Linked DNA regions of Homo sapiens. The protein of the gene in region 1 interacts with the protein of each later gene in a biochemical or structural test. Each region holds a gene or a part of one and is shown in the gene's direction. Other genes may lie near its edges.

The links.
Region 2: the proteins of GAB1 (region 1) and TNS4 form a complex in vitro, tested with the Homo sapiens proteins (one large-scale study listed by BioGRID and IntAct).
Region 3: the proteins of GAB1 (region 1) and MARK2 form a complex in vitro, tested with the Homo sapiens proteins (one study listed by BioGRID).
Region 4: the proteins of GAB1 (region 1) and TNS1 form a complex in vitro, tested with the Homo sapiens proteins (one large-scale study listed by BioGRID and IntAct).
Region 5: the proteins of GAB1 (region 1) and SLA form a complex in vitro, tested with the Homo sapiens proteins (one large-scale study listed by BioGRID and IntAct).
Region 6: of the proteins of GAB1 (region 1) and PTPRG, one has a biochemical effect on the other in vitro, tested with the Homo sapiens proteins (one large-scale study listed by IntAct).
Region 7: of the proteins of GAB1 (region 1) and PTPRO, one has a biochemical effect on the other in vitro, tested with the Homo sapiens proteins (one large-scale study listed by IntAct).

The regions. Positions count from the first base shown.
Region 1 is NC_000004.12:143,441,376-143,444,875, forward strand, and holds part of GAB1 (GRB2-associated-binding protein 1), read left to right. Parts: intron 1-3,500. UniProt on the Homo sapiens protein: Adapter protein that plays a role in intracellular signaling cascades triggered by activated receptor-type kinases. Plays a role in FGFR1 signaling. Probably involved in signaling by the epidermal growth factor receptor (EGFR) and the insulin receptor (INSR).
Region 2 is NC_000017.11:40,481,124-40,484,623, reverse strand, and holds part of TNS4 (tensin-4 precursor), read left to right. Parts: intron 1-14; coding exon 15-140; intron 141-2,207; coding exon 2,208-2,300; intron 2,301-2,417; coding exon 2,418-2,495; coding exon of another isoform or gene 2,496-2,527; intron 2,528-3,500. UniProt on the Homo sapiens protein: Promotes EGF-induced cell migration by displacing tensin TNS3 from the cytoplasmic tail of integrin ITGB1 which results in dissociation of TNS3 from focal adhesions, disassembly of actin stress fibers and initiation of cell migration.
Region 3 is NC_000011.10:63,905,110-63,908,314, forward strand, and holds part of MARK2 (serine/threonine-protein kinase MARK2), read left to right. Parts: intron 1-978; coding exon 979-1,005; intron 1,006-3,150; coding exon 3,151-3,195; intron 3,196-3,205. UniProt on the Homo sapiens protein: Serine/threonine-protein kinase. Involved in cell polarity and microtubule dynamics regulation. Phosphorylates CRTC2/TORC2, DCX, HDAC7, KIF13B, MAP2, MAP4 and RAB11FIP2. Phosphorylates the microtubule-associated protein MAPT/TAU.
Region 4 is NC_000002.12:217,821,496-217,824,995, reverse strand, and holds part of TNS1 (tensin-1), read left to right. Parts: intron 1-3,057; coding exon 3,058-3,256; intron 3,257-3,500.
Region 5 is NC_000008.11:133,054,103-133,057,602, reverse strand, and holds part of SLA (src-like-adapter), read left to right. Parts: exon of another isoform or gene 1-2,644; intron 2,645-3,500. UniProt on the Homo sapiens protein: Adapter protein, which negatively regulates T-cell receptor (TCR) signaling. Inhibits T-cell antigen-receptor induced activation of nuclear factor of activated T-cells. Involved in the negative regulation of positive selection and mitosis of T-cells.
Region 6 is NC_000003.12:62,295,340-62,298,109, forward strand, and holds the end of PTPRG (receptor-type tyrosine-protein phosphatase gamma isoform 1 precursor), read left to right. Parts: 3' UTR 1-2,270; downstream 2,271-2,770.
Region 7 is NC_000012.12:15,514,508-15,518,007, forward strand, and holds part of PTPRO (receptor-type tyrosine-protein phosphatase O isoform a precursor), read left to right. Parts: intron 1-990; coding exon 991-1,111; intron 1,112-2,255; coding exon 2,256-2,449; intron 2,450-3,500.

The DNA.
Region 1 (3,500 bases):
TATATGTAGCTTTTTAAGACCACATAATGTTGGCATCAATTTCTCCTTAACCTGGGCTTAGATCATTAATATTAGTTCTAATTAAGTCCTAGTTGTGAGGAAAAGAGACTGAGGCTCAGACTATCTTAAGAAAAAAGATTTGGTTTTGTTTGTAAGTAAGGATAACCTCCTCGTTTCAACAGGAGGTTAACCTCCTTCAACAAGGAGGTTATCAGGAACTGAAGCAATTCTAGGGGACTGTTGCTGTGTCCTGCTCTCTCTGTGCATTTCTGTTTTATGGGAAATCTTTGCATCTGGTTTGTTCTCTTTCACATTCTTCCCTTCTTTTCTGTTTTCTTTTCTGATTCTTTTTTGTTTTCTTACTCTGTATCCTCTACTTAAATGGATTCTGCTTTCCAAGAGCTTTGGCCTCCAATGCTCCCCTTCTATGGCCTCAGTTCTGCCTCCTAGCTGCTTTTTATGTGCCCTTGCAGCTTCTGCATCAGCTTCTCATTGCCTTACTTATTATTTACTCACTTTAGATTGCTTAGAGATGATGTGATTGGTCTATGTGTGTCACACCCACGACGACCCAGTCTGCCCTGGCAGCAGGGCTGTGATTGCGGTGTGGATCTCAGAAAGGATGTGAGCATCAGAGGCTTTCTATCGGATAATGCTTCCTTTTGTTTCCTTTTTCTTTGTCTCTAAATCTATTTTAGACAACTACTAGTCATTTTCTTTGCATATAATATGCAAAAATATGTTTGGACATGTATAGCTTTATAATTGGTTCATACAGATCACTGAAGGATTGAGATATAAGTGTCATGAACTCTTTGAAATATTGAAATATCTTTTTTAATGTTAAACTGGTGCTTTCCTTATTTTCCAGTAACGAGTGCATGTTAGTGGCAGATCTCTACTTTTTAACTCCAAACCTAACAGTTTTATATTTTGAGGTCTCGCATAAATGTGGAGGGAGTAAGATTTGGGTGAGGTTACAAAGCTTTTAAGTCCTACCTCCCTTGCTCCTCTGCTGCTCTTTTCTCCCCTTGAGCTCTGTAGAGCACAGTTTGAAAACTCCAGTATATTTCAACAGTTGTGATTCCATGTGGTAAGCATAATATGAAATCAGGAAACACCACTGTTTATAAGTTAGAAAAGACCTAAGATCAATTAATGATTAGCTTTTAGTATCCTCTAGGTCTGATATCACTCATGTATCCCACATTATTATGATATATATTTTATGTATATATCAGAATATATACTATGTATCATGTATACTACATATTTTATAATTATACATCCCTATGTATTTAGTGAAAGTACTATTATTCTAGTACACTAGAGACTAATCACACTAGTTCTTTAACGTAAAAGAACTTAATAGAACAGAATAAAGTAGGTTCTTATTTCTGGAGATTGTGTTCATTCTTTTAAAATTTAACTGAACTGTTCAGAGACAATTGTGAGTTCGTTGGCCACATTATTTATTTGGCATATTTGCTTAGATACAAAATGAACTTAAAAAGAGCACCCAGATTGAAATACCCATATAGTTTTTGCCAGAATCAAGAATAGACTTAGCAAAACAGTAAAGAGGTTCCTGAAGTCATAGTATTCAAAAAAAATTTACTTTTCTTTAGTACTATTTTACTTTTTTTTTTTTTTTTTTTTGAGACAGAGTCTCGCTCTGTTGCCCAGGCTGGAGTGCAGTGGCGCGATCTCGGCTCACTGCAAGCTCCGCCTCTGGGGTTCACGCCATTCTCCTGCCTCAGCTTCCCGAGTAGCTGGGACTACAGGCACCTGCCACCACGCCCAGCTAATTTTTTGTATTTTTAGTAGAGACGGGGTTTCACCGTGTTAGCCAGGATGGTCTCGACCTCCTGACCTCGGGATCTACCTGCCTCGGCCTTCCAAAGTGCTGGGATTACAGGCGTGAGCCACTGTGCCCGGCCTGTACTATTCTACTTTTTAAATAGTTATGATACAGGAGAGGAGGCTTGAGAATGTATTTAACATTACAAGGCAGACTTTGTAAACTCACTTTACAAAGTTATGACTTCATAAACTCACTTTACAAAGTTATAACTTCAAGAAAAACACATTTTAAAATCCAAATTCAGATCTCAAAGCAAAGTTTATCCACAAACACTTAAACAAAAATAATGTCTCGTTTGGTCCTATAATTTTTCTCAGTATTCATAGCATCAGATGAATCTATTTTAATTTCAAATTTCATGACATCAGATAAATGACTTAATCTATTATTCAGTATCTCTTATATAAAACTCATTATAAGCAAATCTAATTCTATAAAATATGGCTTGATTAGTTTCAGAGCTCCATATAACTAGTTCATTGCCCTATATGTCTGGTTTTTGAGATTGTCTTTGGAAGGATCTATAAGAAACCAGTAACATTCTAGTCTTGTTTATAGCCCCAATTATAGATGTCAGCTGCTGTAGTTTGCATACAGATGAGCTTTTCAAATACTTATGAGTAATTGAAACTGCAGAAATACATAGATGTTCTGAACACTTAAACATAATTATCTTAGACCCTTTGCCTGTCACTCAATTCATGATAGTGATATTTTCATCATACTATTTCTGTCACTGTAGTGTTTGTTTTGAGCCAAGTTTTGTGTGTATTAAGAGAAACGTATTTTAAGCATACTGTATTAAATATTGGGAAAGCAGATGAGTCACTGGAAATACAGGACAAATTATATTTTGACCTCTTCAATTGAAAATTTTATATTTCTGATGGAAAGGGAGTTTTGTAAAGTTTGGGAAATTTATCTGTTATAGCTTCTCTTTATGTCATGACATAAATCTAGTATATTAAATCGCTAAACTTATCTAAGGCCCCCATCTCTGTCTAGTCTCTGTCTAGCATGATGCAGCAGCTGTGTGAGCCCCACATGCTGTCTTTATGTTGTTATGTTTGGCCTTGTCCATTCACGCCTTTCTGCAACAGTCTGAACATTAGTTACTATACTGACTTTTTTTTGTTAAGCCAGTGCAAGGTTTTGTATGGTGTTTTTATACACCACTTTGGTTAAAGTACCTTCAAGCTTAGATCCTTAATATTGTGTGGGGAGCATACAGAAGACTAATCCTGAGAGTTTCCCTGGGTGACTCTTTTGGCACAGTGATGGATTTGCTCTAAACATTTTTTCAAGAGATCTTTTAAAGTTTCTGAATGTGATTAAAAATTAACATGCACTTTTTAAAATTTTTATTCTTTTGTATTTCAATTTTTATTTTAGTTTTAGGGGGGTGCATGTGCAGGTTTGTTACCTGTGTATATTGTGCGATGCTGAGATTTAGGGTATGAATGATCCTGTCACTCAGGAACTGAACATAGCACCCAATCGTTAGTTTTTCAACCCTTTCCACCTGCCTCCTTCCCCTCTCTGGTAGTACCCAGTGTCTGTTGTTGCCATCTTTATGTCCATGTTTAGCTCTCACTTGTAAGTGAGAACATGTGATATTTGGTTTTCTGTTCCTGCG
Region 2 (3,500 bases), on another chromosome or scaffold:
AAGGATTGTTCCAGCAATCGAGCTGCTGAGGAAGGAGGAGCCAGGGGCTTTTGTCATAAGGGACAGCTCTTCATACCGAGGCTCCTTCGGCCTGGCCCTGAAGGTGCAGGAGGTTCCCGCGTCTGCTCAGAGTCGACCAGGTATGCGTCTGTCTCTGTGCTCACTCAAGGCCTCACTGAGGCAGCGGGGTGTGGTAGGTTCCAGTCCTGGCTCTGGCACTAGCTTTCAGGGTGACATGGCGCCAGTCTTATAACAGCTCCTAGGAGAAGCGTCCACCCCAGTGTTCTCCCCGATGCCCTCCAGCCCCAAGGCACCCTGAAAAACGCCTTTCACAGCAAGCCTGCGTGCTTCTGCCTTCCCGAGCCCCACCCCCACTTCCCTGCTTTTTTCTGATGGTGGGAGAGAAGGAGGAGGGTCCTAGCCCCCTCTAGGCTGCTCTTCTTGGAGTCAAACTGGATTCATTTCCAGGGAACCTAATGTGTGATTACACACGCAGCTAGCTTATCTCACAGGTGATAGCTTACCAGGTTTGTGTACTAGCTCAGCGCACATGTGTGTGATAGCTTATATGCTTTCCTGTGGTCTCCCATGCTTATTTGATAGCAAACATCTATGGAGCATCACCACACACCAGGCACTGTGTGAGGCAGCAGGGATACAGTGGAATCAGACACAGACACCACCTCACTAGGGAGACAGATGAAAACAGATGATTACAGTACAAGGTACCTGGGTCATAGGCCTCACTCAAACCCCAGGATTGCACCTTCTTATTTAACGGATGAGATAACGGAGGCTCCCAGAGTTACTTAATGACTCCAGAGCAATTAAGTGATAAAGGGAGGATGAAACACCCAGCCTTGTGTTCTTGACAGTATGCCTCACTGTCACAATAAGAAAGTGACCTCTGGGGAGGGTGTTACTTATAAAGGACGCCTTGCAAGAGGCAATGAGCCCAGACTGAGGAGGACACTGTGGACTGGTGGAAAGGAGTCAGAAGGTCATTGTTCACCTCCCCACCCCCGGGGCCAGCGTGGCTCCAGCAGAGATGACCTGGTGGGCAGGGGGAGACAGAAACCAGACCAAAGAGTCGACATTTATCTAAATAATTAAGAAGTTTCCTTGCCAGGCACAGTGGCTCACGCCAGTAATCCCAGCACTTTGGGAGGCCGAGGCAGGAGGATCACTTGAGCCCAGGAATCTGAGACCAGCTTGAGCAATATGGCAAAACCCTGTCGCTACAAAAATTACCCAGGTGTGGTGGAGCACACCTGTAGTCCCAGGTACTTGGGAGCCTGAGGCAGCAGAATCACTTGAACCCAGGAGGTCTTTGAGGCTGCAGTGAGCCATGATCACACCACTGCACTCCTTCCTAGACCAAAGAATGAGACCCTGTCTAAAAAAAATAAAATAAAATAATCCCTAGGCCGAAGCAGGAGAACTGCTTGAGCTCAGGAGTTCGAGACCAGCCTGAGCAAAATAGTGAGACCTTGTCTCTACAAAAGAATTAGCCCGACATGGTGGGGCACGCCTGTAGTCCCAGCTACTCAGGAAGCTGAGGTGGGAGGATTCCTTAAGCCCAGGAGGTTGAGGCTGCAGTAAGCCGAGATCATGCCGCTGCACTCCAGTCTAAGAGACAGAGCAAGACTCTGTCTAAAAAAAAAAAAAAATCCCTGATAACTCTTGACCAGCAGAAAGGTTTCCCCACCCCACCCCCAAAAAAAGAAGAAGAGAAAGGTTTCCTGAAGAGGGTGTGGCTGGAGCCATTGAGCAGATGTGTTGGCACCTCCTCTGTGGGAGGGAGAGGCAGGGGGATGGACAAGGTGGAATTTTTTTTTTTTCCGGTGAGACAGAGTCTCACTGTGTCACCCAGGCTGGAGTGCAGTAGCACAATCTCGGCTCACTGCAACCTCTGCCTCCCAGGTTCAAGCAATTCTCCTGCCTCAGCCTCCCGGGTAGCTGGGACTACAGGCATGTGAACCACGCCCGGCTTTGTGTGTGTGACTGTGTGTGTGTGTGTGTGTGTGTGTGTGTGTGTCTTTAGTAGAGATAGGGTTTTACCATGTGGGTCAGGCTGATCTCGAACTCCTGACCTCAAGTGATCTGCCCACCTCGGCCTCCCAAAGTGCTGGGATTACAGGCGTGAGCCACCGCGCCCGGCCACAAGGTGGAATTCTATCCGAATGCACTCTTTCTTCTCTGTCCAGGTGAGGACAGCAATGACCTCATCCGACACTTCCTCATCGAGTCGTCTGCCAAAGGAGTGCATCTCAAAGGAGCAGATGAGGAGCCCTACTTTGGTGAGACTCCCCAGCCTCCAGGCTCCCCCGGGATGGGGGGCCAGCGAAGTCTCCGTTGTGAGCTGAGGGGTGGGTTGGGGAAGCTCTACTCATGCAGGGCTGCTTGCTTCCTTTCAGGGAGCCTCTCTGCCTTCGTGTGCCAGCATTCCATCATGGCCCTGGCCCTGCCCTGCAAACTCACCATCCCACAGAGAGGTGGGTCTGGGCCCCAAAGAGGCAATGCCAAGGTGGGGGACCTGTTTGTTCTCATTAGAAATGGGGTTCACTCCTACCTTGTTGGTGGATTATTTTAGTGTCACGGTTAAAACTGTGTGCACTGGAGTCGCTCAACATCTCCACCTCCTAGCTGTGAAAATTTGAGAATGTTGACCTCTCTGAGCCTCAGTTTCCTCATCATACCTACTTATAGGATTGCTGTGCAGACCGAAAGAGATAGCCCGGGCAAGGCTCTTAGCGCAATGCCTGGCATAGAATGGATGTTGGATAAATAGCAGCCTGCTTTGAGAGGGTGAAAGAGCCTAAATCAAATAGTTTGGAGAGGTTTTCTCTTTCCAGGTCCAGCATTTGTTGAGCACTCACTCACCCATTCATGCTTCACTACAAGCTTGTGAAGTAGACTTTGCTGTTATCATCCCCATTTCACAGATAAGAAAATAAGGGCTGGGCGTGGTGACTCACGCCTGTAATCCCAGCACTTCGGGAGGCCAAGGCGGGCAGATCACTTGAGGTCAGGAGTTCGAAACCAGCCTGGCCAACATGGTGAAACCCCGTCTCTACTAAAAATACAAAAATTTAGCTGGGCGTGGTGGTGGGCGCCTGTAATCCCAGCTACTCAGGAGGCTGAGGCAGGAGAATCACTTGAGCCGGGGAGGCAGAGGTTGCAGTGAGCTAAGATCGCACCACTGCACTCTAGCCTGGGTGACAGAGCGACAGAGCAAGACTTCATCTAAGAAAGAAAGAAAGAGAGAAAGAGAGAAAGAAGGAAGGAAAGGAAGGAAAAGAAAACGAGGGTTCTAGATGTTACGTAATTTGCCCAAAGGCCCACAGAGTCAGACCTTGAACCCAGATCAGCATGCCCTATCCAGAGCATACAGCCAGGTAGGGGGGCAGCTCAGATGAAATAGATCATCTCAGGGGTGTGCAGGAGAAGCTCGAGAAGGGCTGTTTCTGGAAGGGCATCAAGGCAAGGGAGCCCCAGAG
Region 3 (3,205 bases), on another chromosome or scaffold:
TGGGGGTTGGGGGTTGGGGTTTGGGACACTCTGTACCGGTATTGGGTCCTGGGGTTAGAAGAGGCTTCAGGAAGCACAAGAAATTAGGTCTTTGTCAACACCTTATGTGCCCAGGCCCACCCCTCTTAGGCCTCTCCCCAACTCCTCACAGGCACCCCTCATTCTCTGGCCCCAAGCAGATGGCCGATGCCGCCTCCTCTCTAGGAGAGTGTGAACTCAGATGCTAAAATAAAAGCCCCCCCTTCTCTCCTGGGTTCCCATGGAAACTTATATTTGGTGACGCAGCTGCAAAGTCATGAGGCATGAGCCAGGCTGGGGCCAGCAAGGAAAATTTTGTCCTGGTCTCTTGCCCCTTTGACTGCCTCTCCCACTAGTTGGTTCTGTTTCTGGCTGCAGGCGCAGCCATGCCCTTCTGCCCGGGGGTTTTAGGGTGAAACCTATAAATGAAATCACTGGCGAGGGCCTACAGTGGCCTCTTCCCTAACCTAACTCCGATGTGCCAAAGGTTTCCTGTGTTGGACCCAGGGTGGGGATCTCTTCACGGGGTTTCTCACACCTGAGCCCCCAGCCACCACAGAGGTGCAGCTTGAAGTGCATCCAGCCAACTGGCTGGCCTCCTGGGATGCTCCGCATCCCCATCCTGCCATTCCTCTCCCTGCCTTGGAGTAGCAGCTCAGGAAGCAGCAGGGGCTTTGAGAGAACAGGCTCGCCTGCCCTTCCTCTACGTTTCACTCCACTCTGCTGGAGGAGCCAAAGCCACTGCCCCATCCGAGCCCCAGAATGCAAGTGTGAGGCCTGCAGAGAGTGTGGGCAGGTCTGAAAGCCTGGGACTCTAGTCTCGCTGAGCGGCTCTTCCGAAAATGGGATGACCCTTGAACCTGTAAAGCCACCTCCCCCACCTGCTTATCCACATACCGTCTTGTTGGTTTTTTTTTTATTTCTTTTTTTATTTTGTCTTTTTTTTGTTTGTTTTTTTAGAAATCTGTCTTTCAGGTTTGCCAGAAGGTAGGCGTTGAGCCCGCTGTGTGTGTGTGTGTGTGTGTGTGTCTGTGTCCTGTGTCCTGCCTCCATCACTAACTCCCCTTTTCTGGCTCTTACTCTCCTCCATCTGCTTAACCAAGTCTGTGTGGCCCTCCTCTCTCTGCCATCTTAAAGGGATGAAGACTGCCTCTGATTGGGCATCAGCACAAGGCCTGCCCTCCGTGCCCCCAGTACAAACAGGCAGGGCTAAGAGGCCACATTGGCCCACTCAGGGCAAATGGCTTTAAAAATGAGGGCCTTCCTTGGGCCCACAGTTAACGCCTGTCCTCAAGTAAGGGGAGACTGTCTCAGGGAAGCCTCCCTTTAAGATTGTCTCCTCTCACCCACCCCACCCCACCCCCACTCCCTCTCACCCCAGGTTTTGGTCACAAGTGTTGGGATCCTTTCCTGCCCTTTCCCTTGTCATGTGCATGCGCTATGAGGAAGCTCCAGGGTTACAAGTGCATCTGGGATGGTATCTTGTTTGTTGTCTCCTGGGTTTCCTGAACTTCAGAGCTATGTGACCTCTTCCCCGTGGCCTATGGGATCGCAGGACTTTGGAGACACTACGGGGACCCTGGGGCCCCAAGGTTTCAGTCTGGCTCCCCCAGACCTTAGGAGCTTTTGTCTCACAAATGGAGCACAGCACCCCCTCCTGGCAGCTCCTGCAGAACTAGCCCCACCCACCCGCACCCCTGCCCCAGCACCCCTGCCACCAGCAGCATCTGGATAAATCAAGCCTCTTCTCCTCTAGGCTGTTTTCTCCAGATATGGCCTGTCTCTTCCAAAGTGCGGGGAGCTGGGACATTCTAGGGCAACGGCCATTCTACCCCAAGCCGTAGCAAAACAACAGGAGATCTCTGCACCCTTACTCAGGGGTCTCCCTTCACAGTCCCCTTCCTGGCTCTTTCACCCCTGGCCTTATGCTCATCCTCTCTGCAGGCCTCGGGGACCAAATACCAAGCTGAAGACCAAGGGCCAGGTTAAGAGTGCTTGTTCCCCAAGGCTGTCTGCTCAGGCCCTGCATTGGGACTGGGATGCCTGGCAGGCACATTGGTGCCACAGCTGATGGAGGAACGTCCAGACAGGGTCTTCAGGCTTTCCCTATCCCCTCCTCCTCCCACCCAGCTGTTGACTGCATGACTGGCTGCTGCCTCAAGGGGCCCCAGCAGGGGGCTGCCCCACAGGGGGTCTGGAGAGAGCAGGGAGGGTGCCTTCCTCGCACAGCCGGGCTCCCTGCTCGCAGTGCGCTTGTGTGCACCCCTGTGTTGGTTGTGTCTTCCTGTTTATTTCTATGTGCTGCTGCTCTTCCTCCTTCCTCTCATATCCTTCCTCCTCTGCAATCCCCAGTTTCCTAGCTCCAGACACCCATCTTCCAGCCAGGAGCTGGAGAAGCCGCTCAGCGGGGCCAGACCTCTTCCCCACCCACCCAACCAAGGTGTCTGCCCTGCCCTGCCCCACCCCACCCTCATCCTCCCTGCGTATGAGCAGATGGCCTGGCAGGCCAGCAGGTAGGGGAGTTGGGAAAGGTCGGAGGAGGCCGCCTTTTCCACTCAGCAGCAGGAAGCCATCCCCAGGTGCCTACCATGCAGACCCAGGCCTTGGCACTTTGAGTCTCCTGACAGGCCCTTGCGTAGCCACGGCCCCTCCTCCTACAGAGATTCAAAGCATTGCAGCCCCTTTCCTCCAAAAGGACTGCAGTCCTGAGACCCTAGCGTGTGGCTCCAAAAACGCACTCACACCTGCAACCCCCAGAACAGCGCGTGAGCCCTGGCTGTGGGGGAGCAGCCTCGTGCCGGGCCGTGTGCTCAGTGTGCTCAGTGAAGTGCGTGCACAGCCACTCCCCCTCCTCCCCCAGAGCAGAGGCTCCTTCTCCCCGGCACAGATCTGGGAATGTGGGGAGGGACAAGCCCCATGTGCTGGGCTCCCTGCTGGAAAGGAATGGTTGAGCCGCCAGTGTGAGGTGCTGCAGAGCCCTGTTGGCTTGCCAGGTGATGGGCAGAGGGCCCTGGGCTTGGGTCCTGCCCACCCACTGGTGGCACCTCCCCAGACCCACTCTCATCTGGGTCTGTGGCGGCGGAAGGAGCGAGAGATCCCAGCACTAAACTCTCCCTCGCTCTGTTTTTTGAGGAACCTGAATGAACCTGAAAGCAAAGACCGAGTGGAGACGCTCAGGTGAGAGGGC
Region 4 (3,500 bases), on another chromosome or scaffold:
TAAGGATCATGCTTCTGTGACTTTGTGGAGCACATGCAGATTGAGGGCCTGCTGTGTGCCAGGTGCTGTGTGAGGGCTCGGCACACAGATCAGCTAGGCAGGCTCTGGGAGCCCACGGGCAGCCAAAGAGTGGCTTTCTCTCCCTGGCTGGGAGAGAGGTGGTGCCGAGAGCCGTGGGGACCTGGGTGTAGCCATGATGAGTGCCTGGAAGGGTCTGGGAAGAGTTTTCAGAGAGTGACCTAGGGTGGCAAGAGACGGGAGGGGAGAGTGGACTCTGATCTTGGGTGTCATTTGCATGGCTGTGGGTGAGACTCCCTCTGATGTTCTCTTCTCCCAAGTTGGGTTACCAGTTGCCCAAGACTAAAGACACTCACTGAAACTATTGGCTTCCCGACTTGCAGAGGGTTGTATGTGCAGTGGGTAAGGGCAGGTTGGGGCCAGACTGCCTGGGTTCCTTGGCTGACTGTGCCCCTTGCCAGCTGTGACCTGGGCAAGGTACTTACATCCCCCGAATCCTACTTTTCCTGTATAATTGTTTGCTCTTTTTATCACTAGGAATAGCCCTATGGAGTTGGCTTTTCTCTGCCTGATGGGCTGAAGTGCTGGATAGAGCCAGCTCTGGGTGTCCTGTGAGCCTATGGGCCCTGTCTAGGTCACCCAGAGCCAGCTTGTGAGTCTGGAGACTTTGGTGCTAGTGTTCACTGCCACTAATTATCCATGTGTCCTGGCGCACGGCTCCACCTCTCTGGGCTGAGGAGATAGGTTAGATCAGGGGTCAGCACACTGTGGCAGCTGGTCAGATCCTGTCCACTGACTATTTTGGTAAAGAAAGTTTGATTGCAACCCAACCATGCCCATTCACTGTCCTGTTGTCTATGTAAGCTGTCACACCACAACAGCAGAGTTGTGTAGTTGCAACAGTGACAGCCTTACCCACCAGCCTAAGATATTTACTATTAAGTCTTTACAAAAAAGTGTACTGGGCCTGGTCAGGGGATATCTGCATTGTCTTCTAGTTCCAGCAGAGCCTCGTGCTTGGGTGGCACAGAATCCATGCCTTTGGTATGAATTTGGCCTGGGCCTTCTGCGAGGAGGTGGGTGGCCTGGGCTGGTTGAGGGAGGATTTCGAGGAGGCCTTGCTGGCACTGCCTACATGGATTCCAGCTTTGGGTGCCGAGGTGCCTGGTTCTACATCACCTTGTGCCTGCTACCTAGAATAGACCTCCCGTGCCTGCCTCTTTGCAGACAAACTGCCCCAGCCTTGTCCACTGTCTTGCTGTTGGGTGGAGGGGGTTCTGTATGGGGACAAAAGACAGACGGGCAGGCTGTGGCTGGAGCTGTGTGCAGACTCCATTGCAGCCTCTGGGTCCTGCTCTGTAAAGGGTCCTGTGCTGAGGGACCATCCTCTTCCGGGGTCTAGAGAGGCCTCTGGCCTGGGTGTAGGATGTCAGACCTGAGGGCCACCCCAGAAGCCACTCCACGGAGGCCATGCCCCTATGCAGCAAAGGCTGGAAGCACCCTGCTAGCACCCTGGTGACTAGGCTCCTTCCAAATTAAGGTTTTCTTTGGGCTAAGGGGAGGAAGGTTGCATTTCAGCTAGCTGGACCCCAGGCCTGTCACCCATGAGGGACCTGGAGGAGGGACCTGGAGGACCTGACTATTTTGGTAAAGAAAGTTTGATGGCAACCCAGCCATGCCCATACACTGTCCTATTGTCTATGTAAGCTCTCACACCACAACAGCAGAGTTGTATAGTTGCAACAGTGACAGCCTGACCCAACAGCCTAAGATATTTACTATTAAGTCTTTACAAAAAAGTGTACTGGCCCTGGTTAGGGGATCTCTGCATTGTCTTCTGGAGGAGACCTGGAGGAGGGGGCTCTTCTCCAACTCTGACCATTGCAGTCTTGGCCAGCAGGGGCTGCAGGGGCCTGGCCTCCTGAGGGATGCACAGACTCTGGTTCTTCAGTTTCTCAGGCTGATTTCAGTGGATGCCTTAGTTGTGGGCAGTATGGCTCTGTACTCAGGCCAGGTTCCTCCTGGGTAAGACAGGGACAGGGTGGGATTTGGAGGTGGTAGGAATGACATTCCTCCCGGATCATGGCCCGGGGTAAACAAGAGCGTTCTGTTGCTTCTTCCTCTTTCAAGCGGAGTTCGTTTGGGAGCTGGCCTCAGAGGCCGTAGAGGAGTTGGGCAGGTGCCGGTCTGGGAGTCGGGCCATCTGGGGACCTAGTCATTTCCCTTGTCGGGCCTCAGCATCCATCCTTATCTGTAAAATGGCCTTTTCTAGCGTGTGTCCCCCACCCCCTCTTAGGCTGTTTTGAACACCAGGTAGTGCCGTGTATAATGAGGTCCTCTGTAAACTAAACTGCTCAGTGCTACAGGAATGCCAGAGGTGGGCGATGGAATGTTGAGTTCCGCCTGGGAATGGGGTTCCCTGATGCCAGTCTCTAGAGGAATGCTGAGTGTGTCAGGCAGAGAGGGGTGGGTGTGTCTTGGCATCAAAGGGGCTGGTGAGTCTACAGCAGCCCCACAGGGCAAGACTCACCAGTGCAGGCCTGTTGCTAGGTGGCCAAGGCTGTTTCTGGATTCTGGGCAGGGGGTGGAGCTCACATGAACTCTGGCACTATCCTGGGATACAGGCAAGGCAGGGATGGACCTCTGGGCCCACTGTAGGGCCCCAGACTCTAGTGGCACGAGGAGAACCTGGAAGGGCCTGGGTGCTGAGCAAGATCATTGAAGAAAGAGAGCAGCCAAAGGGGGTGCCAGCTATGGACAGCCTCCTAGTCCTTGGAGGGAAGAGTCTCTGATGGCCATGTTCTGAGGCGGGGCCTGGGATCCATTTCAGGGCCCCCTCCTCTGAGCAAGGCCCTGGTGAAAGGTCACTGCAGGGCAGGGTGGGTCTGGGCAGGCAGGAGCCCTGCCTGTCCTTTGGGGGCTATTCCTATGTTCCCAGGCAGGAGTCCAGGAAGCTGTGTTCCAGGGGAGGTTGGGGGGGACCTGCACTGCACCCCTGTGCATCTGTGCTCAGTGTCTCTGTCCTCTTGCCCCTTCCAGAGCCCCGGAGCTATGTGGAGTCTGTGGCACGGACAGCGGTGGCTGGACCCCGAGCTCAGGACTCTGAGCCCAAGAGCTTTAGTGCTCCAGCCACCCAGGCCTATGGCCATGAGATACCCCTGAGGAACGGGACCCTGGGTGGCTCCTTTGTCTCCCCCAGCCCCCTCTCCACCAGCAGCCCCATCCTCAGTGCTGACAGGTAAGCCGGGAAGGGGCAGTGGGTGGGGGATGGGAATCCGGGCCTGGGACTGGGACGGGATGGGTGAGGCCTCCTGGATCTGTTGCCTATGGCGTGGACAGGCAGAAAGCATACCCAGATGGCGGTACCTTGCAAACCAGTTCATCAAGGTGCATTGAGGGCACATGTCCTGCGCGCTGAATCCTGTGGGGAGCCCAGTGACCTATAATTCCCAGGCCGCATTCAATTCCGCCCATCCAAAACT
Region 5 (3,500 bases), on another chromosome or scaffold:
TTTAGGTGAGTCACTCGGGCTGCCCCAGAGATCTGGAACAAGTCCCTCCTCACAGCGACAGCATGATGCAGGGCAGGCACCAGCAAAGAAGGGTGTGGAAACTTTTAAAAACTCTGTTTGGGGTTACCTGACTGCACCAGGTTATATCTAAATGGCCATTCCCCAAAAGTTTTAAAGTGGTGAAACTGGTAGTTCTGTAATTTGCTTTCAAATCATCCCAAAGTGTTCATTTTCTCTACAATTCTATACATACTTCTGTACCAGACATGGGCAGTACAGGATTTTTTAATACAACCTAGGGAAGTCCCGCTGTGGTCAGGAAATGGCATATTTCCACCTTAAAATGAGCACTCTGTCTCTCTGCTGTGATCTTTTTCCCCTCTTTGTTCCTTCTCTTCTTATCACCCTGACCTGAAGAGGCACCAACAGAGGCAGCAGCACAGACCCCTTTCTGTCCGTGCAAGGGTAGAAATAATGCTGTTTACATAGTTGCCCAGTGGAAAGAAGGGGGCGGGTGGGGCTCGGGGAAGGAAGAAGGAGGTAGGGACCTCTCAAACCCAGCTTGCAGCTTCTCAGTAAGTGGTCTTCGCACCACCTGCATCAGAATCCCCTGGGAAGTAACTGAAATGCAGATTCCTGGGTCCCACCCCAGGCCCACGAATCAGAACCTGGGGATGGTGGAAGGTAGCCGCCAGCTGAATTTCCTAGGAGTTCCTGGGGACTCTGTAACCCCTAAAGCTTGCAGACCACAGACCAGCTTTTAGTCCTGCCCCTGCACTGACACACAACGAGAGATGAGAAAGAGTTTATCTCCTTAGTCTCTCTGTCCTCCTTTGTAAAACGGGAATGATTAGAGCCGCTTGGTGCTCACAGCCTCCAGACACAGTGCCCAGTGCTTTACATATGCAGACTCGATTCTCACAGCCCCACGAGGCTTCTGCCTATTATCATCTCCGTTTTGCAGTTGGAGAATCTGAGGTACAAGAAGCTTAAATGACTTGCCTTAGGCCATACAGCTCAGAGGAGACAGCTGGGATTCAAAGCCAGGTGGTCTGACTCCAGGGTCCCTCTCCCCACCTCAGTGTGTGCCTGGAAAGGACAGGGTTTCAAGAAGCCCCCATGCTCTGGAAGAGGATGGGCTCGTCTCGAATGAATGAGAATGTGCCTGGCCCCCAGATTTAATGACCCAGATGATCAAGTGCCCTAGCAAGGGGTCCCACAGACAGTGAATCCGTGTCAAATCTTGGACCAGATCCCTTTTTTCTATTTGAATCTAACCTCGCTGCTGGTACATGAGATGGTCTTAGGCAGAACTTGATCATTCAACTTTTACATAATTGTACATTGATGAACATCATAAAATATATAACTAGCCCAAGAAATCCACGATGTCACATTGCTTAGAATAGCACTCAAGTTTTTTTAAGTAAATTAATTTTTAAAAAGACATTATCAAGTAACTAGTGCTGTCAACTATGTCAAAGGAGACCTGAGTGGTTCAAACACAGCCATGCCCTGCCCTGCCCAGGGAGACCTGGTTTTGAAACCTGGCACTCAGCTTCCTAGGTGTGTGCTCTTGGGCGGTCTCTGGACCTCACTGTGCCTCTATTTCCTCATACTCAAAATAAGGTAGTTTCAATCTATCAACCTCACAGGGAGGCGTGAGGACTTCAGGGGTAACCTCGGTACCACCACAGCCCAGTGCCTGATTCCCCCCAGAGCTGTGCGCCCTGCTGCTGCTGCTGCTGCTGCTGCTGCTGCTGCTGCTGCTGCTGCTGGTGATGAGGAGGGGGAGGAAGGGAATGGTGGAATGAAAACAACTGAAGTCTGAGAAGCCCTGGGTGCCCAAGTAAAGCACATTCTGAGTCTATGCAGTCCAAAATATTCATTTTGACTATTTCTTGCTTCTGTTCTGTGCTAGCCCTGCCTATATCCCTCTAGCATCTAAGAGAGTTGAGACTGACCCTGAAAAGACTCAAGGTCTGTTTAGTTCCAATCTGTCCCCACTAACATACGGAAAAACCAAGGCTTGGGCAGAAAAGAGCTTTGTGGGCTACCGGGTCTCAAACACAGCCCTTTACATATGACTAAGAGGGCTCACAAGCCTGGTTCATGGTGACCCGCAGAACTCGGCAGACCTTCTACCAGGCTAGATGGTCCAGCTCTGTGTGATTGGTTAGTTGCATGTATAATCCTGTGTGTGTGTGTGTGTGTGTGTGTGTGTGTGTGTGTGTGTGCGCGCGTGCGTGTGTGTGTCCTGAAGATGACACTGAAAGTCAGGCCTGCTTTGACCCCTGAGGAGACCATGAGTTTAGCCATGACTCCAGGAAATGCAAAACAAGAGGCTGCAATCCCTGGGCTGTACAGCTCCCTACCCACCAGTTGCCCTGAGCTGCTTATGCTAACCCTGACAACTTACCTGGAGTCTGCCTTTGTCTCCCCTGTTAAGGGTCAAGTGTGGGCTGAGGAGAGCTTGAAGATTAAGTGCCAAGGAGAGCCGTGTGGCTCCGTGAAGGACCCTGGGCTTTGAAATCTTCACACTTTCCCCTAGATAGGTGACTAAAACTCTCCCAGCTTTGGCTTCTTCACCCTTAAATAATCACGTATTTTCTGTAGGGCTGGGCAGGGCACTGGAAGTGACAAACGACTAGTTTTATTAGACAGTTATAAGTGGGAGTGACTGAGAATGTTCTCAGCATTTAAAAAGAAATGGTCATGCAGCACCAAAGAATGACAGTTTACAAAAGGGCCCGTCCTCTCTTGACTAAGTCCCGTAAGGCCTGCCTGGGTCCCTCCCCTTTGTGGATTCGTTTCCTATTTTACGCTTTTGTACATTTTGTTCAACTTGACTCATTCTTAAGTTGAGCTATCAGCAAATATTTGGTCTTTTGAATTTCATCTTCTGTTCTCACCAAGTGGAGTTCATTTTTAGAGAGTAAGAAATTATCAAGTTTACTAGTTTGCAAATTTTAGAAAGTTATTGGCTAACACTGGTCTTGAGTTATGGTCTGGTGACCCCGCTCTCCATGAAAATAATATTAGCTTCCACTTACTAAGGCAGGCCCTAAAATGCAATGCATCCTGAATCCTTCACTCAATCCTATGAGGCAGATTTTGGCAATTTCCCTTTTTATTCACGAAGAAATCAAGCTCAGATTAGTTAAAAATAAATCTCCCCCCAAATCGCATCACTGTGTAGTGGCGGAGGTGGGATGTAAGCCAGTTCTGATTGGTTTCAAAGCCCCATTCTCTTTCCCGAAAATTCTCTCTGGGTTTCTTCTTTCATGCGCAGTGCATATGTCTTCACTTAATTTGTTTCCTTATCTTAAGTCTGCAATAATTCCACTGACTTCCTCAACTCTCCTCTTCTCTGCCTCACTCATTTATCTCTGCTTGAATTCAAACGCTGAGCTCTCCATAAAGCTAAGGAGTTCTAGGAGTAGATGATAATATGTCTCACCTTTACCAACAAACTTAAATTTCCTACATTGCATTTATTT
Region 6 (2,770 bases), on another chromosome or scaffold:
TTAGATGTATAGAGTATTGATATGAGTTAACACTTTTTAGTAGATGGCAAAGTGGGCTTGATGTTCAAAAGTAATGTTCGAGTTAGGGTTCATGGTCCCTTTCTCAGTAATTTTTTCTTAATAAAAGTAAACACTGGTTCAAAGACAAATAGCAAGTATTCCCTCCTGTGCTATTTATAGAGGGCTCAATTCGTAGAAAGGCATACCCTCCAATGCAATTCTGTGGCTGTCCCTTACAGTGGTTTCAGAATCACGAAAAAACAGCTAGTAAATAGGATAGAAACAATAAAAGAAAGAGTTTAGAAGTTCCCTGTGAGCAATCTGTGTGTCTTCAGCGAGCTTGAACCAAAGTCTTCATATCCTGACCCACTGAATTATAAGCAATTGCTACTTGCCCATCTTGCCAAAGTAGTCCAAACACACTTCAATGAGGACAGTTATATTTAGCAGGTCCTCACCCCTGCAAGAGACAGCATATCCTCACTATTATTATTCATGTGTTATTGGCAAAAACATAGCTTGCATCTTTCCAGAGGCAGAGTTTCAAAGACAGGGTTTTCTTTGAGACATAAGCACATTGCTTAAGTACATAACAAGGTTATTAACACTTGCACTCAGGGGAAAGGAAATAGCTATTGCAAATTAATGTGTGCAACTTAATAAAATAAGCTGTTTGTGTATATGAATTTAGCTCTAGGTAAGCAAAATGCACACATCATATAAAAATAAATTGCAATGATCAGACCAAGTGGCTGTGCTGGACATCAAAGAAAAGACATGCTGTTGCCATCAGGAGAACTCTTTCTTATATGCGATAGCCAAGATATCTTCTTTAATATGAAAAAAGTTAATTTCTGAATTTCAAAAAGAGTAAGATTAGCTAATTGGTCTTCCTAATTTTTATGCCTTTAGAGTTTTTAGTCTATTCAAGTAGAAGAGTCCAGCGAGGCCAAAGAAGGGTTACGGTGTTCAAGTTCTGGTTGTTGGAGTTTTTAGCCCAGAGTGACATACTGAAATCAGTAAATAATTATTTTATAATGACACAGCACAACTGCCTTGTTATGAATTTTTCTTAAATGCATATATACTGTATTTAAAATTAAAATATAGATACCAATTTACCAAAGATACATATTACTAATTCTAAGCAAAACTAAAAAAAAAACCCAACTCATCATAATTTAAGAATCAAAATGTAGTTTGTCTTAAGAATTTAGTGGTTATACTGGAAATGCATTTTCAACTCCTATGTTCTAAAGTTTATGTTCAAATGGTGCCAGTGAATTTTTATATGAAGGGAAAATGCCTGCTTTTTTTTTTTTTTTAACAGATGTAATTTCACTTAACCCTTTGCGCTTTCCCTTAGTTGTCATTTAACATACAATACTGGCTTTACTTATCTCTAGAAAGAAGAAGGCATGCTACAAATAGGAAGGAATTGTAATAATGATATTTGGCCTCTACTTTGTCTTAGCTGTTAAACTGTTTTTAGTATTTTTGTTAAATATTTGCAAAGGGAAGCATTTTCTACAGAGGATAATTAATTTCAAGAAAAATATCTTGAGTTTTAAGAAATAAACATCTCCAGAAAAGGAGAAAGTCGATTTTATAAAATGTCGCAACTCTCCAACATTTGGGGTAGTGACTCCTTTTTTGTTAGGACATTTGAAACTAGCAAGCAGCCATTGTTTCTAAAGAATTCTGGCTTCACATTGACTCATGTTTCTTTCACTCCATTTTGAAATAGCTAAAAATCATTAAAACTGTAAATATTTTGTTGCTTGGGTAAGCATCTTCTGGGAACTTTGTATCTATGGTATATAATCATAGAATTTTATATTTTCATATAAAGCTAATTTTTTTCTAGTTTCAACTCCGTCATAGTTTTTTTTCCTTTTTGTGGTGGATATGTGAATTCAACTTTCTGTGTATTGAAGTAGCAAAAACCATCTTTACATTCCAAAAGAATCCAACATGTGTTATTTCTTTGAGGCAGTGATTGTGAAAGTTGGGTTTTCTTTTTAATTCCATTGACCATTTGTGCAATAGGAATTAGACATAATTAGTCACTGAAAACATTCGTCACATTGACCCATTTGGAAAAAGTGTGCTTTTTTTTTTTTTTTAAATTTGTTCAGGGGGAGGGGTTTTGTAACCTGAAATTTTTCCCTTTTTCTTCTGTTTAAACTATATCAAATCATTCTATTATAGTGTTATTTAATATGTAAATTGTATTGCTATACATAAAATAAAGTATGGTTTTTGATGTATTCAGTAGTGTTGAGCATTTCTATGAAAATGTCTATATCCAATAAAATAGGTTACTAGTCTCCCTTAACAGATCACATTAATACCCACCAACCCTCTGGTCTAAGTTTTCATGGTAGTAAAATGAACATTGGTAGTCGTCTTTACACAGGCAGCAAACCAAAAAGAATGGTCTTTGCTGGGTTGATTTATCAACGTTCTTTCTCCTTTAAAGAGTAAACAATGACAGTTTTACCTGCTCATCTAAGGAATCAAACTTTATTCAGTTTATGACTCTGCTGCTAAGTTGTGAACAGAATTACTATTTTCTCTAGTGTATCAACTAGGTTTGTAACAACTCTCTTAATATTTACGAGGTAGGATGAAGGATATATCCTGGCAAGAGTTCTGGAGAATCTATATGTGTAAGATCAGTACAATTGCTTCTACTTAACAAGAACTTTTGACATTTCCAAACAGGTATACAAGTCCCAAACTTGGCAGCTTTGGCCTACCATTCTGT
Region 7 (3,500 bases), on another chromosome or scaffold:
AAATGTTCTCTACAATATTATTTTAGGGGGCTACAACAGCCTGGCAGGGTGCTTACCAGGATATCTCGATGCTTAGCACAGTGACTTGCCCATAGTGTAGATTAAAGGTCCCAACACTAGGCTTCCAGTCCCAACACTGCATCTAAATATATGACCTTGGCCATTCTCTGGCTTTACTTTATTTATTAAATGAGCACTTTGGACTAGGTAATCTCTAAGGTCATTTCCATTTATTTATTTATTTATTTTATTTATTTTTTATTTTTGTTTTTTTGAGAGCTTGTCTCACTCTGTTGCCCAGGCTGGAGTGCAGTGGCACAAACTCGGCTCACTGCACCTCTGCCTCCTGGGTTCAAGCAATTCTCCTACCTCAGCCTCCTGAGTAGCTGAGATTACAGGCACCTGCCACCATGCCTGGCTAATTTTCTTTGTATTTTAGTAGAGACAGGGTTTCACTATGTTCGTCAGGCTGGTCTTGAACTCCTGACTTCAAATGATCTGCCTGCCTTGGCCTCCCAAAGTGCTGGGATTACACGCGTGAGCCACTGTTCCCGGTGGTCATTTTCATTTCTATAATTAGATATTATATGCTTCTAAGTGACAAGAGACTAAAGACATTTCCGTACTGACCTTTGTATGTAATCAGCTGACACCACAATTTAGAATGTCAAACTATCCTCATGGTATTGCTGATTTGATTATGGTTAGAGGCTGATGTGTCTCTAGTGTGCATAGTTATAATTGACACTGATGGGTATAAAGCAGTTCACAGGGCTTAGAACAGACAAAATTTGAATCTTCTAGGTTCCCTTCAATGTTCACATAAACTATAAATCATCCTAATTTTGGAATCTGACAGCTTCAGTAAAGCCTTCTGGATTTCAAAGTCATCTGTGATTCCAAAAAGAGTCTCTGAATATTATACCAGCCTCTGTGTAACATTCTGAAATCCCAGCTCTAAATAAATCTTATTGGGTGTTTGGTTTAAAGGTGAACTCAAGCAAACCTATTATTGAAAATCTGGTTCCTGGTGCCCAGTACCAGGTTGTAATATACCTAAGGAAAGGCCCTTTGATTGGACCACCTTCAGATCCTGTGACATTTGCTATTGGTAAGTTGCTAGCCACAAGAAGAATGACTGACCTATATATTAGGGTATTGACGGAGGGGTGCAATGTGCGAGCTCAAATCATTATCATCGTATTTGGAAGGTCCATATTAGTTCATCCAATATGCTACCTTCAGAGTAATAAATAACAAGAATTGTATACTTGGAAAACATTCTTAATATTTATTACTTGGGGAAAAAATCAGAGGCAAACATTCTTACTTTAGTTTTCAATGATTATACAACAAGAGTAAAGCTGTGTGCCGTGGCACACACCTACAGTTCCAGCTACTTGGGAGGCTGAGGTGGGAGGACTGCTTGAGCCCAGAAGTTGTTTGTTTTTTTTGTTTTGTTTGTCTGGTTTTTTTTTTGTTTTGTTTTTTTTTTTTTTTGGAGACAGAGTCTCGCTCTGTCACCCAGGTTGGAATGCAGTGGTGCAATCTCAGTTCCCTGCAACTTCTGCCTCCCAGGTTCAAGCAATTCTCCTGCCTCAGCCTCCTGAGCAGCTGGGACTACAGGTACATGCCACCATGCCTGGCTAATTTTTTGTATTTTTAGTAGAGACGGGGTTTCACCGTGTTAGCCAGGATGGTCTCGATCTGACCTCGTGATCTGCCCACCTTGGCTTCCCAAAGTGCTGGGATTACAGGCATGAGCCACCACACCCAGCCAAGCCCAGAAGTTTTAATCTAGCCTTGGTAACATAGCAAGACCCTGTCTCAAAAAAAAAAAAAGAAAAGAAAGAAAAGAAGAAAGAAAGAACGAACGAAAGAGAGAGAGAGAGAAAGAAAGAAAGAGAGAAAGGAGAAAAAGTGAGAAAGAGAGTGAGAAAGAAGAGAGTGAGAAAGAGAGAGAAAAAGAAAAAGAGAGAGAAAGGAAAGAAAGAAAAGAAAGAAAGAAAGAAAAAGAAAAGAAAAGATGAAAGGAGGGAGGGAGGGAAGAAGGAAGGGGGAGGGCAGGGGGAGGGAGGAAGGAAGGGGAGGAAGCAAGAAAGGGAGGAAGGAAGGAAGGAAGGAAGGAAGGGAGGGAGGGAGGTAGGTATTGTATCAGAGAGTGAAAACTCGGGTCATTAAGTAGAAGTTTGAGGCCATTGCTAAGACATTCCTTCTTAACTTTCTTTTTCTACCCCCTGCCCTCTTCTTTCTAGTTCCCACAGGAATAAAGGATTTAATGCTCTATCCTTTGGGTCCTACGGCCGTGGTTCTGAGCTGGACCAGACCTTATTTAGGCGTGTTCAGAAAATACGTGGTTGAAATGTTTTATTTCAACCCTGCTACAATGACATCAGAGTGGACCACCTACTATGAAATAGCAGCAACTGTTTCCTTAACTGCATCCGTGGTAATCTTCCCTTAACCAACTGTCAGTCTTTCCTATGGGAACAGGCAAACCTTTATGTACCAAATGTGTCTTTAAGAAATTATCTATAAATTTGATTATTTTGTAAATACACATAGTGTGTTAGTTCATTTTCACACTGCTGATAAAGAAATAGCCAAGACTGAGCAATTTACAAAAGAAAGAAGTTTAATTGGACTTACAGTTCCACGTGGCTGGGGAAGCCTCACAATCATGACAGAAGGCAAGGAGGAGCAAGTCATGTCTTATACAGATGGCAGCAAGCAAAGAGAGCTTGTGTAGGAAAACTCCCTCTTATAATAGCCATCAGATCTCATGAGACTTATTCACTATCACAAGAACGGCATGGGAGAGACCTGCCCCCAGGATTCAGTTACTTCCCACAGGGTCCCTCGCACAACACTTGGGAATTCAAGATGAGATTTGGGTGAGAACACAACCAAACCATATTATTCTGCCCCTTGCCCCTCCCAAATCTCATGTCCTCACATTTCAAAACCAATCATGCCTTCCCAACAGTCCCGAAAAGTCTTAACTAATTAACTCGAAAGTGCACAGTCAAAAGTTTCATCTGAGACAAGGCAAGTCCCTTCTGCCTATGAGTCTGTAAAATCAAAAGCAAGTTAGTTACTTCCTAGATACACTCGGGGTACAGGCATTGACACAGCTGTTCCAAATGGGAAACATTGACCAAAACAAAGAGGCTACAGGCCCCATGCAACTCCAAAATCCACTGGGACAGTCAAATCTCAAAGCTCCAAAATGATATCCTTTGACTCCGTGTCTCACATCCAGGTCATGCTGATGCAAGAGGTGGGTTCCCATGGTCTTAGGCAGTTCCACTCCTATGGCTTTGCAGCATATATCCCCCCTCCTGGCTGCATTCACAGGCTGGCATTGAGTGTCTGCAGCTTTTCCAGGTGCACAGTGCAAGCTGTCAGTGGATCTACCATTCTGGGGTCTGGAGGATGGTGACCCTCTTCTCACAGCTCCACTAGGCAGTACCCCAGTAGGGACTCTGTGTGCAGTCTCC